2 separate regions of the Homo sapiens genome follow, and region 2 is linked to region 1. The links come from fine-mapping of genetic effects on gene expression. A gene starts in region 1. The other region holds a variant in brackets. All regions are shown on one strand. Distances are from middle to middle.

Region 1 (8,315 bases):
CCCCAAGCGTGTAGGTTCCCCCTTGTGTAGGTTCCCCCGTGTGTGCAGGTTCCCCTGTGTGTGCGGCTTCCCCTGTGCGTGCAGGTTCCCCTGTGTGTAGGTTCCCCTGTGTGTGTAGGTTCCCCTGTGTGTACGTTCCCCTGTGTGTACGTTCCCCTGTGTGTAGGTTCCCCTGTGCGTGTAGGTTCCCCTGTGCGTGTAGGTTCCCCCGTGCGTGTAGGTTCCCCCGTGTGTGCAGGTTCCCCTGTGTGTGTGGCTTCCCCTGTGCGTGCAGGTTCCCCTGTGTGTAGGTTCCCCTGTGTGTGTAGGTTCCCCTGTGTGTACGTTCCCCTGTGTGTACGTTCCCCTGTGTGTAGGTTCCCCCGTGTGTAGGTTCCCCTGTGCGTGTAGTTTCCCCCGTGTGTAGGTTCCCCTGTGCGTATAGGTTCCCCTGTGCGTGTAGGTTCCCCCGTGTGTAGGTTCCCCTGTGCGTGTAGGTTCCCCCGTGTGTAGGTTCCCCTGTGCGTGTGGGTTCCCCCGTGTGTAGGTTCCCCTGTGCGTGTGGGTTCCCCCGTGTGTAGGTTCCCCTGTGCGTGTGGGTTCCCCCATGTGTAAGTTCCCCTGTCCGTGTAGGTTCCCCCATGTGTAGGTTCCCCTGTGTGTGTAGGTTCCCCCGTGTGTAGGTTCCCCTGTGCGTGTAGGTTCCTCCGTGTGTAGGTTCCCCTGTGCGTGTGGGTTCCCCCATGTGTAAGTTCCCCAGTGTGTAGGTTCCCCTGTGCTTGTGGGTTCCCCCGTGTGTAGGTTCTGCTGTGCATGTAGGTTCCCCTGTGTGTACGTTCCCCTAAGCATGTAGGTTCCCCCGTGTGTAGGTTCTCCCATGTGTGCGGGTTCCCCTGTGTGTGCAGCTTCCCCTGTGCTTGCAGGTTCCCCTGTGTGTAGGTTCCCCTGGGTGTAGGTTCCCCCCATACGTGTAGGTTCCCCTGTGTGTAGGTTCCCCTGTGCGTGTAGGTTTCCCCGTGTGTAGGTTCCCTTGTGCGTGTAGGTTCCCTTGTGCGTGTAGGTTCCTCTGTGTTGGGTCCTTAAACATTAACCAGCTCCTTCCTCCCCAGGCCTGGGCAGGATCCCAGCACACAGAGGAAGAAGCGGAGACTCACGTAGGCATCTCCTGGCCCTCCCAGTCTTCCTGACTGTCTCTCCTGGGCCACGCTGGCAAGTGGCCCCAGAGCGGGCCATACACCGTGCTGGCATTAGCACCCCAGGGTGTGCTTAGCCCTGGGCCCGCTCCCTGGCCCCCCTGGGTGGCTTCCCTGTCACAGTGCAGAAGGCTCAGCTCCCCACATGGGGTTCCAGCCTGACCCTCGTATGACTCAAGCCTGAAGATACTTTGCCAAGGGAAGGAATTCAGGTTTCTTCCTGGAGAAACATCCCAGATCACTGAAGGCTTGTAGTTAAAAGTTTTTGTGTATTCAGGGACGCTGTGCTTTGGCAGGGCCCAAGGCAGAGTCCATGGGTGTCCCTAGTCCATGGGTGTCCCTTTCTCTTGAGGCCTCTGGCAGAGGAAAGAAAGCTCAGCTGGTGGCTGCGGGCTCAGGCTGGCGGGGACCCCCCAGCCGTGGCATCTGGGCTGCCTTTGTGTGTCGCTCCCTCACTCTCTGAACAAGTGTTTGTCACTGCCCACCACGTGCCAAGCTCTGCAGAGGGAGACTCGGGTGCCTGCAGCTCGAGTCCACCTGAGCATCACCGGCAGAGCCGAGCCCCTGGAGACTTAGCCAGACACAGCCCCTGCCCCGGGGGAGCACCAGGCGGGTTCTAACCAAGCAGGACTGGAGGCACAAGCGCTAAACAAGGAAGCCATCAGGGCAATCCAAGGACCCCACGTCAAACCAAACAGGATGGTGGAATGACAGCGGGCGGCGCCTAGGGAATGGGGCAAATGAGCGACGTCCCGGAGCCAAACGTGTCGGGCCCTGCAGTGGGGACAGAGGCGGTGGTCGGAGGGTTGCAAAGGGGGTCGGCAGAGCTGCAGCCAAGCCTAGATGAGCCAGAGCTGATGAGGGTGTCGGGGGAGCAGCCGTGTTGACCCGGGTGCGTGGAAGCCCCTGGAGAACTTTGGCAGGGGCGCTGCAGAGGCTGATTTTGCCTTTGAAGGCCTCACCATGCTTGCCATGTGGAGAAGGCTTCGGGAGGCACGCGGCTGCCTGGACCAGGCTGGGGTGGTGGGGAGAGGGGAGGCACGCGGCTGCCTGGACCAGGCTGGGGTCGTGGGGAGAGGTGGACAGATGTGCAGCCCCGTCTGGAGGCGTGCGGCCGGCGTGCGCTGCAGGTTGGCAGTGGAGTGAGGAACGGGGCTATCAAGGGCTCTTGAGGGTTTCACCCAGACAGCTGGTGGACACGGTGCCATCCAGTCAGAGTGCCCCTTGAGACCCGAGTCTGTGCCAGGCGTGGCATAGTTGAGATACTGGTGAGCTGTCCGGCTTGGAGCCTGCAGGGAGGCCAGGTCAGGGGGCAGGGTTGAGAGCAGCCAAACACCCGGATACGGACATCAGCATTTGAGGCCGCCTGACTGTGCCCAGCTGGCAGGACTGAGGCCTGAATCCAGGGAGGGGATGAAACTCCTGGACAAGCCTTGAGTTTGGGGCAGCACACATGTCATCAGTTGTGAGCCGACCTCTTGAGGCTGATGTTGGAACAATAGTGGCCAAGGTCGGGCACGGGCTGGAAGGGCAGGATCTGCAGTCTCAGGACCCCAGAGGGCCCAGGGAGCTGTGTGTGTGCTGGGTCCTTGGGCCTCTTTGCATCAGGAGTTAGGGAGGTGCAAGTATGTGGCTGTAAGCATGGGGACATTGGGGTGGATGTTTTTGTTTTGTTCTTAGAGACAAGGTCTGGCCCTCACCCAGGCTGGAGTGCAGTGGTACGATCGTGGTTCACCGCAGCCTCAAACTCCCAGGTTCCCAGGCGATCCTCCTGCCTCAACCTTCTGAGCAACTGGGACTGTAGGCACGTACCACCACGCTGGCTCATGTTCTTATTTCACTTTCTGTGTCACTGCATTGCCCACCTCAGCCTCTCAAAGTGCTGGGATTACAGGCCTGAGCCCTGGTGCCTGGCTGGCGATGGGGTATTGGTAGAACCAGGCCTTCTTTGCTGGCCGCCCCCGGTCCTCCTGTTCACTCTGCAAAGCCCTGGAGTCTGCCAGCTGCCCCATCCTCACGTCCTCTTCAGCTGCCCAGGTTGGCTGTCCAGCTGCTGGTCTAACCTCCATCCAGGCCTTTCTGACAGTGAGGTTTAGGGGCTACCTTCCCTAGAGGACTGAGACTTGGAGGAGGGCCAGGTGGGGGCTGGGGCCCACTGCAGTGGGGGTGGGGGAGGTGTGTCTGTGTCGCTCAACATCTGCGAGTCCCCCAGGGACATTGCTTAGGAGGGCTGGCGGCTGTGGGAAAGCGGATGCTGTTTATCCCAGGATCAGCAGGAGAGCCGCCAGATAATAAGGGGATGAAGGGCGTGCCAGCAGCCGGGCCCTGATGTGGAGGTCAGCTGTGATCCAGGGACCCAGAACTCGGAGAGGAACTTTAGCAGGGGAGATGGTGTGAAGGAGACACGGCTCAGGGCAAGCGCCAGAGACCAGGAACCACTTTTTTTTTTTTAAATCTTGGGCTGGGGAAGGGGAAATAAAGTCCTTTGCGGTTTCTGAGTCCAGGGTTCCCTAGACACTGTTGCCTTTGTGTGTCCAGAAGCAATTCAGCGGTTTCCAGAGCAGCATGCTTTTGTGTTCCAGGGCTGGCTGGCCCAATTCCGTCCTGCTTGCAGAGAGGGCCTGGAGCCTGGCCGGGCGCCGCCCTGAGCCTGGGGGATCCTGGGAGAACCTGGACAGCCGTGGTGAGCCCTGCTGCCCTGCTCTGGTGCACAGGACTGGAGTCCTCCAGGCTCCAGGGCAGCAGACACCACCCTCTCCGTGCCTGCTGGTGTTGGGCGGCTTGGAGGCTATGGTTCCTGGGTCCTCGTAGCACATCCTGGTTCTGGGCCAGGACCTGAAGGAGCCACAGTGAAAGAGTGTTTCTGGATGTATCTGAGACAGACGGAGGTAGGGGGCAGGGGGCAGGGGGCAGGGGGACATGGTAGGGCCCATCTGAGTGGAAGCCCCAGCCTTGGGAAAAGCTGCTACTCTCTGGGGCAGTGGTCCCAGCTACCACGTGCTCTTCTGGAGCCATCTTGATCTTGAAAGGCAGGCTCCCTCCCAAGGCCGGGTGCAGGCCAGACCCCACCGGTAAAGCACCTGCGCAGCCCGGGGCCAGGGGTCCAGTGAGGAAGGGTGGAGGCCTCCTGAGAACCTGGCCTGGTCAGGAGGGCCGGCAAGAGGAGGAGCCTCCCAGGAAGCCCCTCAGAACCTGACAGGACGAGAGGAAGGGAGGCCGATCTGAGAGGGAGGGAGGCCCATCCGAGAGGGAGGAGGCCGATCTGAGAGGGCCGCATGGCTCGGAGTTGCAGGGGCCCTGGGCTGCCAGGGGTGGGCCTGTAGGTGCAGGTGGAGGGGCTGGTCCTGGGGAGAGCGGCTGGGCTGCAGGCTGAGGAGCTGGGCTTCCTCCAGGGACCGTGGAGGGGGTGGGGATGGGCAGCTAGAAGTGGGGAGGGCAGGGGCCGTCTGGTTGGGGATGCGCGGCTGCAGCACGCAGGACGGAAGGTGCAGGTGAGACGCAGGTGGGCGGTGTCGGGAGACCCGGGTCTGGCCTGAGGTGCAGCCTGGAGCTATGCTCAGTGTGTAGACGGGCCTTGGTTCCTGCATCTGTAAGTTGGGCGTGTGCTGGGTAATAGTGTCCTCCCCCAAAATTCATGTCCACCTCGTACCTGTGGACCCGACCTTACTTGGAAATGGCTCTTTGCAGATGTCACTGAGATGAAGTCACCCTGGTGTACAGTGGAGCACTCTTCAGTGCAGTGCGGGGGCTGCCCATGTGGCCGTGGAGGGCACCCCTACCCCGGTGCAGGCGCAGGCTGGAGGCGTAGCCCGGGCCCATCCCTGGCGGTGTGTCGCGGAGGGCACCCCTACCCCGGTGCAGGCGCAGGCTGGAGGCGTAGCCCGGGCCCATCCCTGGCGGTGTGTCGCGGAGGGCACCCCTACCCCGGTGCAGGCGCAGGCTGGAGGCGTAGCCCGGGCCCATCCCTGGCAGTGTGTCGCGGAGGGCACCCCTACCCCGGTGCAGGCACAGGCTGGAGGCGTAGCCCGGGCCCGTCCCTGGCGCTGTGTCGCGGAGGGCACCCCTACCCCGGTGCAGGCGCAGGCTGGAAGTGTAGCCCGGGCCCATCCCTGGTGGTGAAGGCTGGAAGGTCCATCCCTGGCAGTGTGTGGTGACATGTGTCGTGACATGGAGTTTGATTCTTAACTGACCGAAGCTTGAAAAGTCTGTCTTTTTGATGGACCCAGGGAGTTGGGTGAGGAGGGTGGTGGAGTCAGTGGGGCTGAGAGCAGGGTCGTCTAGGACCCTGATGTGTGGACGCCCTCCCCAAGGGCCGCTGTGAACCATCCAGCAGGATGACCCTGGGTTTGGGGCTGAGCCGGTGGCTGGGAGAGCAGACTGAGGAGTAGCTGGACACTGGCGGGGCACGCATTGCATTCTGATGGTGACAGGCGGGACACTCAGGGCCTTTGTCCCCTCTCTCATTGCCTCATTTGCTTGCCTGAGGTGATTGGGAAGGCAGCCCTGGCCTCGGAATTACAGCCTCCCAGACAAGGGGGCTGTCCTCTGCCCAGAGCCCTGCAGGCAGCCAAGAGTTCTGTGCGTGTCCAAGCGTGTCCCCTGCTTTCCTTGGGTGGAGGCCAGCTCGGTGCCCTACACAGGGCCTGCAGGCCCCAGCGCCCGGGTCATCCCCTCCGCTTCCCTCTCAGCTGCCGCAACCAGGAGGACTCGCCGGGTTTTTGAAAATGGAAGGAAGTAGGTTTTACATTGCTACACTTCCCCTAGCCCGTTCATCCTTCCTTTTTAAACATTAAAAAGCAGTAAAAATGGTGGTTACCGGGGGCTTGGGGAGGGCATGGGAGTTCCTATTCAGTGAGCAGAGTTTCAGTTAGACAAGACGAGTCCGGAGGCAGCCGCTCAGCATCACAGATGTAATTTATGCCACGGAGCTGCACGCTAAAAACTGGTGAAGTTGGGCTGAGCACGGCGGCTCACGCCTGTAATCCCAGCACTTTGGGAGGCCGAGGCGGGTGGATCACGAGGTCAGGAGATTGAGACCATCCTGGCTAACATGGCGAAACTCCGTCTCTACTAAAAATACAAAAAATTAGCTGGTGTGGTGGCGGGTGCCTGTAGTCCCAGCTACTCGGGAGGCTGAGGCAGGAGAATGGCGTGAACCCAGGAGGCGGATCTTGCAGTGAGCCGAGATCACGCCACTGCACTCCAGCCTGGGCGACAGAGCAAGACTCCATCTCTAAAAAAAAAAAAAAAAAAACTGATGAAATTGGTAATATTTATATTATGTGTGTTTTACCGTAATTAAAAAATATTGTGGGAAAAGAAGTAATAGGGAGGCATTTTAGGAGATTTGGAGAGAGAATTGTTAACGACCACCGTAAGCCCATACTCCCGACGTCTGGCCCCATAGCGCCCGAGTCTCTTCACGCACCTGTTTGCCATAACGACAGTCACAGGAAGGTCCCGGTTTTAGTTGCCTTCATCCCTTTACAAGGACGGGGTCCTGTGTGGGTCCACCAGGGTGCTCCAGGACCCCCTGCCCTGCTGGTCTTGATGGATGGTGTGTGACGTGTTTCCCCCCACCAGGCCTCCACTTCTTGAGCTTGGTCCTAGGGTCCTGGTACTGAGTTGTGGGGTGGCCGGTTGAGGGGGCGTCTGTGTGCTTGCTCTGCCGCATTCCGCAGCCCGGGTTAGCTTTAGTTTCCTTTCTTTATTTTATTTTATTTTTTTTGACACAGAGTCTCACGCTGCCCCCCAGGCTGCAGTGCAGTGGTGCAGTCTCGGCTCATTGCAAGCTCCGCCTCCCGGGTTCATGCCATTCTCCTGCCTCAGCCTCCTGAGTAGCTGGGACGCTTGGACTACAGGTGCCCGCCACCTTGCCTGGCTGACTTTTTTGTATTTTTAGTAGAGATGCAGTTTCACCGTGTTAGCCAGGATGGTCTCGATGTCCTGACCTCGTGATCCGCCCGCCCCGGCCTCCCAAAGTGCTGAGATTACAGGCATGAGCCACCATGCCCGGCCTAGTTTCCTTTCTAGTGAGCTTGAAGGTTTTCGCGTATTAGGAAGTGGTCTTGTCATTTTTGCTACATTGACTACATTGTCAAGCTGCCTTTTTTTTTTTTTTTTAAACAGAGTCTTGCTCTGTTGCCCAGGCTGGAGTGCAGTGGCGTGATCTCGGCTCACTGCAACCTCCACCTCCCGGGTTCAAGCAATTCTCCTGCCTCACTCTTCCAAGTAGCTGGGATTGTAGGCGCACATCACCTCGCCCAGCTAATTTTTGTATTTTAAGCAGAGATGGAGGTTCGCCATGTTGACCAGGCTGGTCTCAGACTCCTGACCTCAAGTGATCCACTCACCTCGGCCTCACAAAATGCTGGGATTACAGGTGCCAGCCACCGCACCTGGCCTAGTCAAGTTGTCTTGTAACATGGATATTAATCCTTCATGTATCATATTTGTTACCTGTATTCCTTGTTTTATAGCGTATTTTGACATTTTTTACTTTCTTTTTACAAATGAGAGCTTTTTACTTTTGCCTGGTGGCCTGTTAGACATTTTTACTTAGTGGCTTTTTTTTTTTCAGTCCCTTAATATAGACTCTTCCATCTTCTTCTCTCTAGGGATTTCATAGCTACTAAGTTCCCTCTTCCTTTTTTTTTTTTTTTTTTTTTTTTTCTGAGACGGAGTCTCACTGCCCAGGCTGGAGTGCAATAGTGTGATCTTGGCTCACTGCAAGCTCCGCCTCCCGGGTTCAAGCAATTCCTCTGCCTCCGTCTCCTGAGTAGCTGGGACTACAGGTGCCCGCCACCACACCCAGCTAATTTTTGTATTTTTAGTAGAGACAGGGTTTCACCATGTTGGCCAGATGGTCTCGAACTCCTGCCCTCGTGATCCGCCTACCTTGGCCTCCCAAAGTGCTGGGATTACAGGCGTGAACCACTGCTCCCAGCTGTTCTCTTTTCTTTTAAGGTTTGTGTGTTTTTAAATTGACTGAACCTTTAGTCCCTCTGCAATTTGTAGCTCCTATATGGGAAGCTTTTCCAAATGGCTGGCTCATGCTCCCTCAGCCTATGAGCAGCAGTTGCTACCTCCCCATCACCCACATCCCCCTCCTGGGGTCCTCCCAGCTTCCAGGGGATGCTGGGC
Region 2 (8,315 bases), 35 kb before region 1:
CCACTAATGACAGTCCCGTCTACAGGGCTACTGTTCTGATTGTTTGGTGTTTGAGTTATAACCTAGGGTTGTGATTATGTTTAAGCCCAGTGATTAAAGTCCCCTGTGGTTACACAGGAAAGGCAGGAAGTACCGGCCTATCAAAAACATTAATAATAGTAATAGAAATCACTCATTCTGCACAGCAGGCCTGCGCTGAGTGTTTCACACGAATTGTCTCAACCAAGTCTGCAGAGCACACAGCTTCACCCCATTTTACAGATGAGGAAACTGAGGCACCGGGAGGCAGTGCCACTTGCCTAAGTCCCCAGTTCGTTCCCGAGCAGAGCTGGGATTTGCACGTGGGTGGCTTTGCCCCCAAGGCTATGCTCATAAACATTGCAGCCTTTCTGCCTTCCTGATAACCCTCCTCTAAGGGGGGTTTTGTGAGAGAAATATCAGCAATAAACTCAAAGTCATGATGAGACTTCTCTTTTTGCTGTCAAATGTGCAGTAAATAGCAAGATTCGGACAGCATGTCCTGCTCAGGGCCAGACAGCCCTCTAAGCATGAGACATGATTTATTTTCGTACCAACTGGAGGTAGGTGCTCTTGTTAGCTGCATTTCACGCAGGAGGAAGCCCTGGCACAGAGCCACAGGTTGCTGCGTGGTAGAGGTGGGTTTGGACCAATGGGCTGTGCTTCTAACCTAAGCCCCATATGCACGGGGGTTGGGCGGAGAGCGTGCTTGATCTTGCTGCTGTGTGTTCTTGGGCAAGACACCTAACCTCTCTGGGCCTCAGTTTGGTCACCTGTAAACGAAGGCCTTGGCCTAGGGTATAGAAGCCAGAGCTTGAGAGCTGGCTCTGGCCTGAGATGGCCGCGTCTGCACCACCTCCCACAGGGAGGCCCAGGTGGGTGGAGAGGCCTGGCTGCCACTTCCCTAGAGGAAGCAGGTCTACTGAGGAGCAGTGCTGGGGCCTTGGCTGGGGCTGGGTGGGGCTGGGTGTGGAGGCCATGGGTGGTCGAGGAGTGAGGGCTTCTGGGATGCACTTTGCAGTGGCCGAGTCACTGCCCTCTGTGAAGTGAGGTCCAAGGAGGCAGAGCGTGGGGCTGCTGGGAAACCGTGAAGCTTTGTGCTTGGTGAATTGTTACTTGTCCCTGGGGAACAGGAGGGACAAGAGACTCTGCTTGGGACTCTGTGCCACCAAACTCCCGAGAAGCTGCAGTGGGAGAAGCTGAATGCTGGGCAGCGGGCGGTTAGGAGGCTCCAGGAAACGGCTCAGCCTCTCTTGGTGGGTTCCCCTGCCGGCCGTTCCTGGGACCTCTCTGCTCCACGTCCCCCCTCCAGGGAGGCCTCCCATGAGTGCCCCAGCTGTGCCTCTGCTGTCACTGCTCTCCTCTTCCTGAGGTTCTTGTTTGTCTACTGTTTACCACGCTTCCCTTCTAGAAGGTGGGCTCCTGAAGTTAGGGGTCTCTGCTCATGTCCAGCGACCTGGAGCGGCACCTCATTATGCCTGGTATCCTGGGACCCTGGCTCGGGTCTGAGCTGGGCTGTGGAGTTGGGTAGGGCCAGGAGCCAGGCTGGGAGTGAATTTGTTTGTTCCTCACTCTTGGTGTTGACCTTGGCCACCTGGCTGAGGTGTGTTTGTCAGCGTCTTTATTGAGGTGTAATTCACACATCATACAACACACTCATTGAAAGTGCACAGTTCACGGACTTCTAGTACATTCACCAAGTTGTGCAGCCATCACCACAATCGAAACCCAAACAGGAACCTGGGCCTTCTAGACACTTTAGGCACTCCCTGGACCCTTCCTCCCTGCCTGTGGTGACCACCTTTCTCTCTCTTTTGTCTTTTGAGATGGAGTTTCGCTCTTGTTGCCCAGGCTGGAGTGCAATGGTGCGATCTCAGCTCACCACAACCTCCGCCTCCCGGGTTCAAGCGATTCTCCTACCTCAGCCTCCCAAGTAGCTGGGGTGACAGACATGCACCACCATGCCTGGCTAATTTTGTATTTTTAGTAGAGATGGAGTTTCACCATGTTGGTCAGGCTGGTCTCGAATTCCTGACCTTAGGTGATCCATTCGCTTCGGTCTCTCAAAGTGCTGGGATTACAGGTGTGAGCCACCACACCCAGCCAACTCTATTTTTAAAAAACTGTTTTAGATTTATAGAGAAATTGCAGAGATAATACAGAGTTTCCCAATTATCCCTACCAACAGTTGCAGTTTGTCTGGTGATTAACATCTTACATTAGTATGATAGGTTTGTTACAATCCATGGACTAATATTGATACATTATCATTAGCCAAAGTACATAGTTTGTTCAGATTCATTAGGTTTTACCTAATGTCCTTTTTCTGTTCCAAGACTGCATCTAGGGTCCCAGATGACATCTAGCTGTCATGTCTCTCTAAGCTCCTCTTTGCTATGACAGCTTCTCAGACTTTTCTTAGTTTTGATAACTCTGACAGTCTTAAGAAATAGTAGGTGTATTGTGGGATCTCCATCCATTGGAATTTGTCTGTTTGAACAATTGGAATTCCTCTGTTGGAATTTGGATGTATTTCTCATGGTGCGACTGGGGCCCTGGCTTAGCGGGAGGAAGACCACAGGGGCATGGTGCCCTCTAACCACGTCACGCCAGGCGCATACCTTCGATGTGGCCCGCGGCTACTGGTGCTGACTTGGCCACCCACCTGAGATGTGTTTGTCAGGGGTCTTCACAGCAGTTCTTGTGTTTCCTCCTTCCAGTACTGTTGCCTTTGGGAGGAGGTCACTACACGCGGCCACACTTAAGGGCTGGGGAGTCACGCCTGCCTCCTTGAGGGCAGAGTGGCTGTGTCACTGATGTGGCCTTCTTCTTCAGGGGGGTCTGTCTCTTCTCCCCATTTATCAGTTTATGCAGCCGCTTACTTATCCATGTGGGTTCGTGGATACTCATTTAATCCTCTAGGTCAATGCGGAATGCCATTATTTTGTTTGCTCACTCGTTCCAGTGCTGGCCGTCGGGTTCCCTGGATGCACCCCTTCACGGTGGGTGGTGTGAGTCCTTCCTCACTTTCTGGCCCTGTGAGATGCTCCAGGCTCAGCTTGTCCATTCCCTGCCCAGGCCTAGAGTCAGCCCCTTCTGCAGGGAGCCCGGGTTCCTTTTGTTGGAGGGCAGAATCGGAAACCAAGATCCAGGTGGCGGGTACGCTCATCACTACCGGGGTGTCATTGCTTCTGGGCCCTCTTAGCTGACAGCAAGGAAATGCACGTGTGAGCTGACGCGCACATATGTACGTGTCTCTGCCTGTGTCCGCGTGTAGCCTCCTGTACCTGTATTGAGCAAAGTGTGAGTTCGCGCCGCTGATGAACTCTGATCCGTTTCCTGCATGGATCTTTCTCGTCTCCTTTCTTGCAGATCAATTCGTGTCTATTCAAGCAGCAGGAAGCCAGACTCCCACCGCTTGCCACACATCTACTTAATTGTTAGTACCGGTGTGTCTGCGTAGTGGGACTGGAGTTGTTAGTGGGACCCCCCGGGAAGCAGTTCCCGATCCCTTGGCTTCGAGCCCGGGCTCCCGGTATGCTGCCGCAGCATGGCTGGCTGGGGCTGGGGAGGGGCCGCCACCTCCCCAACATGATTCCACGACTTAGAGGGAAGAAGGGAGGGAGGCTGCAGGAGAACCAGGGACTTCCCTGCTGTGCTTAGTCAGCCCGGCCCCGCAGGGACGGGCACGGGCTTGGCGTTGCTTTGAGACGTGAAAGTGGGGCTGACTTAGAACGCATCCCAGAGTCCGGCCTCCTCGGGGAAGGAGGAGAAAGGCTGCCGGCGGGACGCTTTAGAGCTCAGACAAATCTCCGACTCCATCCTGGCCAGGTCTGTCCCCTCTCTGCCTCTGAACTTGCCACCCTGGCAGGGGACGGCCTTTGAAAAGATCTACAGAGCCGCATCTGCTGGGCTTTCTGTTAAGCATCTTTCATTCAGGAATGCGTCAGGCCCTTGCAGAAGTTTTGGGAAGAGAGAGAACCAGGTGGTCACTCCTCGTCTGCTGGTTTGTCGGCGGTGTTTTCCAGGCAGCATTTTGGGGATCTGAGTGGAGCCTGTCTTTTTTCTTTCTTTCTTTTTTTTTTTTTTTAGATGGAGTTTTGCTCTTGTTGCCCAGGCTGGAGTGCAATGGCGTGATCGTGGCTCATTGCAACCTCCACCTCCCAGGTTCAAGTGATTCTCCTGCCTCAGCCTCCCGAGTAGCTGGAACTACAGGCACGCACCACAACGCCCAGCTAATTTTGTATTTTTAGTAGAGTCGGAGTTTCTCCATGTTGGTCAGGCTGGTCTCAAACTCCTGACCTCAGGTGATCCGCCTGCCTCCACCTCCCAAAGTGCTGGGATTATAGGCGTGAGCCACCGCGCCCGGCTGCCTGTCTTGTTTTCTTGATGTTGGGTTAACTTCGGCCCTAGACCCAGGAAGCCTCCGGTCACAGCACC[C/T]CAAGGCCCTTGCCTGGAATACAAGACTTTCACCCTTGTGTTCGCGGTCCCATGAGGGGTGCTGGCCTCTTATCACCTGTCCGGGGCACCTGAATGATGCTTCTGCCTTCAGGGCACACATGGTGGAAGGGAGCTTGTGGGAGGTGGAAAGGTAAAGAGAGCCTGGTCTATGGGATGGGGAAGGGCCTGACCCTGCCAGGGAGGGAGCGACAAGGAGGGCTCCCTGGAGCGATGAGGGAGGGGCACAGGAGTTTATAGGACACAGGAGTGGGGATGGCTTGAGACCGGCCTCTCAGGTCAGCTTGTTAAAGGTCAGCCTCTGTGCAAGGCTCCTGGAGACCCAACCAGCATGTGCCTGCGGCTCCTCTGGGGCTAGGACTGAGGTTCAGCCACGTCTTGGGTGCAGTGGGATACCTGGCTCCTTTGTCTGCCCCCGAAGGCCCTTGTCTCTGTGCTATGGGGCTAGGCCCTCCCATGACCCCCACGTTTCCCCAACCCTATGGAGTGTGTCTAAGGAAGCAGGTGGAATTGGCCTGGCTCCCCCAGTCTGGGACCTAGAGCACAGCCCGGGGAGCCAGGGCTGCCCTCGCTGGGGATGCCAGCATTCTTGGGAATGCAGCTTAGGGGGTGGCCCACTCACCTGCCTATGCCCTTACCTGGGGCCAGCCTCCTGCCTTCCTGCTGACCGTGTCTCCTTCCTTGCCCTGGCTCCTCCCCACCGCCCCACGTGCCCCACCCCCATCCTCACTGGGCCCCACTGGCGCCTCCCTGCTTTCCAGGTTGAGATTGGTGGGCTGGCTCAGTCCGGTGCGATGGTCGGAGGCATTTGCCGGGTGATGCTGGCTCGGAGGGGCTCTGTCCCCTCCTCTGTCTGCCCTCCCCTCCCCAGCCCAGGGCTCCCTGGCTCCCCGGGCTCTGCTCTAGGCCCCAGACTGGGGGAGCCAGGCCAATTCCACCTGCTTCCTTAGACACACTCCATAGGGTTGGGGAAACGTGGGGGTCATGGGAGGGCCTAGCCCCATGACACAGAGACGAGGGCCTTCAGGGGGCAGACGAAGGAGCCAGGTATCCTACTGCACCCAGAGCTCTGGTGTGGCGGAATCGCTGGTGGGGTCTCAGCTTCTCAGGGCGACTGGCTGCTGTCCCTGCTGGGACATGAGTTGGGGGGAACCCCTACCTGTCTGCTGGGGAAAGCGGCCCTGGGGTGAGCCTGGCCTGAGCAGTGACAGCCTGCAGGGTCCTCTGTCTTCCTGCCCTGCAGCTGATGAGGAGGGAGCTGAGGCCCTGCAGCTCTGAGGGCACTTGGGACCTGGATGGGCAGAGGTAGAAAGGTGTGTGTAGACCTTGGCCCCTGGGTGGGGAGTTTGGCGTTTAAAAGTCTGAAGCAACACCCACACCCCGTCTGTGTCCCAGAACCCACCCTCTTACCCGGGAAGAACCGGACCGTAACTACCCTGTGATGCTGGACAAAGCCCGTGCTGATGGTCGCCTACTTCCTCGCATGCTTTCTCAGCCCACTCTGCGCCCAGTGGCTCTTGTTTGCCACAGAACCCTGATGAAGTAGATTATCCCCTGCCCTGGGGGAATGCTCAGCTGACAACAGGAGTGGACCCTGTGAGAGTGGAGGCCCCTGTGATCTGTGGAGCGTGTGTGCCCGCTGGGCTGTGATGAGCCAGTGATCTGGGGCTCCGGAGTAGAAGGTGACATTGTGTCCCCAGCCACTGCTGGACCCCAGCAAGGTGTGTGAATCATTTCACACATTCTCCACCCAAGAAGTGAAACTGTCAGGTTTAAGTGTGTGGGGGTGGGAAGGGGAAGTCTGTTCCAAAAGCCCAGCCGTCCGGAGTGACACTGGGCCATCAGCTCTGGGAGGCGGAGGCCGTTTGGGGTCCTGTTCCGGCTTCAGTGCCCAGGTTTGTGTCTTCTGCTTGCTTTCTGTAGCCCTTCTCTTCCAACTAGGGGGATAGTCAGGGTCTGACAAAGGCTTGAGGGGGAGGGCCTCCACCAGCAGCATACCTGGCAGGCAGCCCAGGCCGGGGCGGGGGGCCAGTGGGCTGGATGGGGGTCAGTGGGCAAGGCTCCGTCCTGTCCTGTCCTGTCCTGTCCTGTGGGAGAAGCCTAGGCAGGCACACTCAGCCAACCCCAGCTCAGGAGGGAGGGACCCAGAGGCACTGGCCCGAGGTAGGGTTGAAACAGGTGGAACTGACTGGTGGTCGTTGCTGGCCCCTGGAGCCTGACCTGCCTAACAGTGGAGGTGGCAGATGTTTGGTGGAGAGGAAGTGAAACAGGCGTGTGCGCCAGAAGCCCGGGCGTCGGGGTGGGGCCGCGGGAGGATGGTACAGGGCTCCTGATCCTCCCCGTCTGGGCAGACGCACTCACATCACAGGTTGGCAAAAGGCCTGAGGGTCCAGGGGGCCAGGGCCTGGTCAGGAGGGGCACAGGCGGGGAGGGAGTGGGTGGTGTCTACTTGGCTCTAGATGTCGGGTTTAGAGAGAGACTCTGGGACAGCCCCAGCCCTGGTGGAGCCCCATGGAGCCGCCTTCGGGGGCTCTGTCCCAGAGTCTCTCTCTAAACCGGACATCTAGAGCTGTGACTCAGGATAGGCAGGCCCTGGGGGGTCACCCCCAGCCACCCCATCTGCTTTGAGAACCTAGGAGCATGGGAGAAGCCAGGTAACCCCAGTGACTGCCCAGCGTCCCCCACAACCCGATGGATGAGGAGCCAGTAGGTCAGGAGGGGCAGAGCTGAGGTCAGCACACCTCCGTCCCTGTCTGGCTGTCCGTCTTCCATCCCTCCAGGCAGCACCACGCAAGGGCAGGGAGGTGGCAGGCCTGCTGAGCTCTGTGGATGTGGGGCAGACCCGGCTGGCTTGTTGGAGCACCCTCCCCGGGCGAGTGCTGTTCATATTGGTATCTGCGGAGTGGGTCAAACCACTACAGAGGGCAAGAGGGGAGCTGTGGCCTCTGGCCAGCCACGTTCTAAGCTTTTACAAGGCCCCACCCTGTCCCTCGCAGTCTTAGCCATCAGCTGCCTTTGGAGAATGAGCGATCTGAAGATGTTCCTGGCTGGGGGGCAGGGGTGGCCAGTGCTCCTGGAGCTGCGGGGTGCCCACCCTTTCGTCCGTCCTCCTTCCCCGGCCTGATCCAGGAGCCCCAGCACCGCCCTCTCCATCCCCGGGGTCCTTAGGCTTCCCTGACACAGGTCTCAGGAGGGCATGTGACACTGGCGTCGGTCCGGGCTGGGCAGAGCCTGGATGTGGCCCAGGCTGGGCTGGGCTGGAGCCGAAGCCTTTCTTCTCAGGTCCTGTCATAGCTGTGGGGCCTGGGGCTGGTGACCCAGCCTCTGCCAGCGTCTCCCCACCCCCTCCCACAGTAAGGTTGGTGACAGCAGAGTTCTCTTAAACATTTGAGATGTCCTGTGCTGGCCCGTGGCAGTGCAACCACAGCTCGTAACTGTGGCGCTGGGCAGAGGGCTGGGTACGCAGCAGGTGCTTCGTCAGTACTGATGGGAGAAGCAGGGACGGCAGGGGGCGGGGGGACCTGGATGGGCGACACTCCCCAGCCTGCTGGTGCTCCAGGGAGGACCTTTTCAGAGCTGGGAGACCCTGGCTCAGTGTCCTTGTCCCTCCAGTCGCTGCTGCCTTCCCGAAAGCCCTGGAGCCTTGTTAAAGAGGGCAGCCCTGGCTCTTGGGGGGAGTCCTGGGTTTGGGGGCGGCTCTGATATGGGGGAGCCGTGGGTGTGGGGGCAGCTCTGATATGTGGGGGAGCCCTGGGTGTGGGGGCAGCTCTGATATGTGGGGGAGTCCTGGGTGTGGGGGCAGCTCTGATATGGGGGAGCCGTGGGTGTGAGGGCTGTGC

Evidence for each region.
Region 2: its variant is fine-mapped to the expression of GRAMD4 in whole blood (TOPMed, PIP above 0.99).

Annotation. Positions count from the first base shown.
Region 1 is chr22:46,616,506-46,624,820 of GRCh38, forward strand. It overlaps GRAMD4 (GRAM domain containing 4), which reads left to right and starts at 3,881. Exons shown (of 19, transcript NM_015124.5): 1 at 3,881-4,060. RefSeq lists enhancers at 1,913-2,680, 5,109-5,620.
Region 2 is chr22:46,581,101-46,589,415 of GRCh38, forward strand. It overlaps a transcript of GRAMD4 not described here. Among named protein-coding and RNA genes, the nearest start is that of GRAMD4, 35 kb to the right of the region's middle. RefSeq lists enhancers at 748-827, 1,546-1,645, 2,182-3,171, 3,172-4,159, 5,148-6,135 and silencers at 6,626-6,675, 7,026-7,075. The variant C/T (reference allele first, on the strand shown) is at 4,459.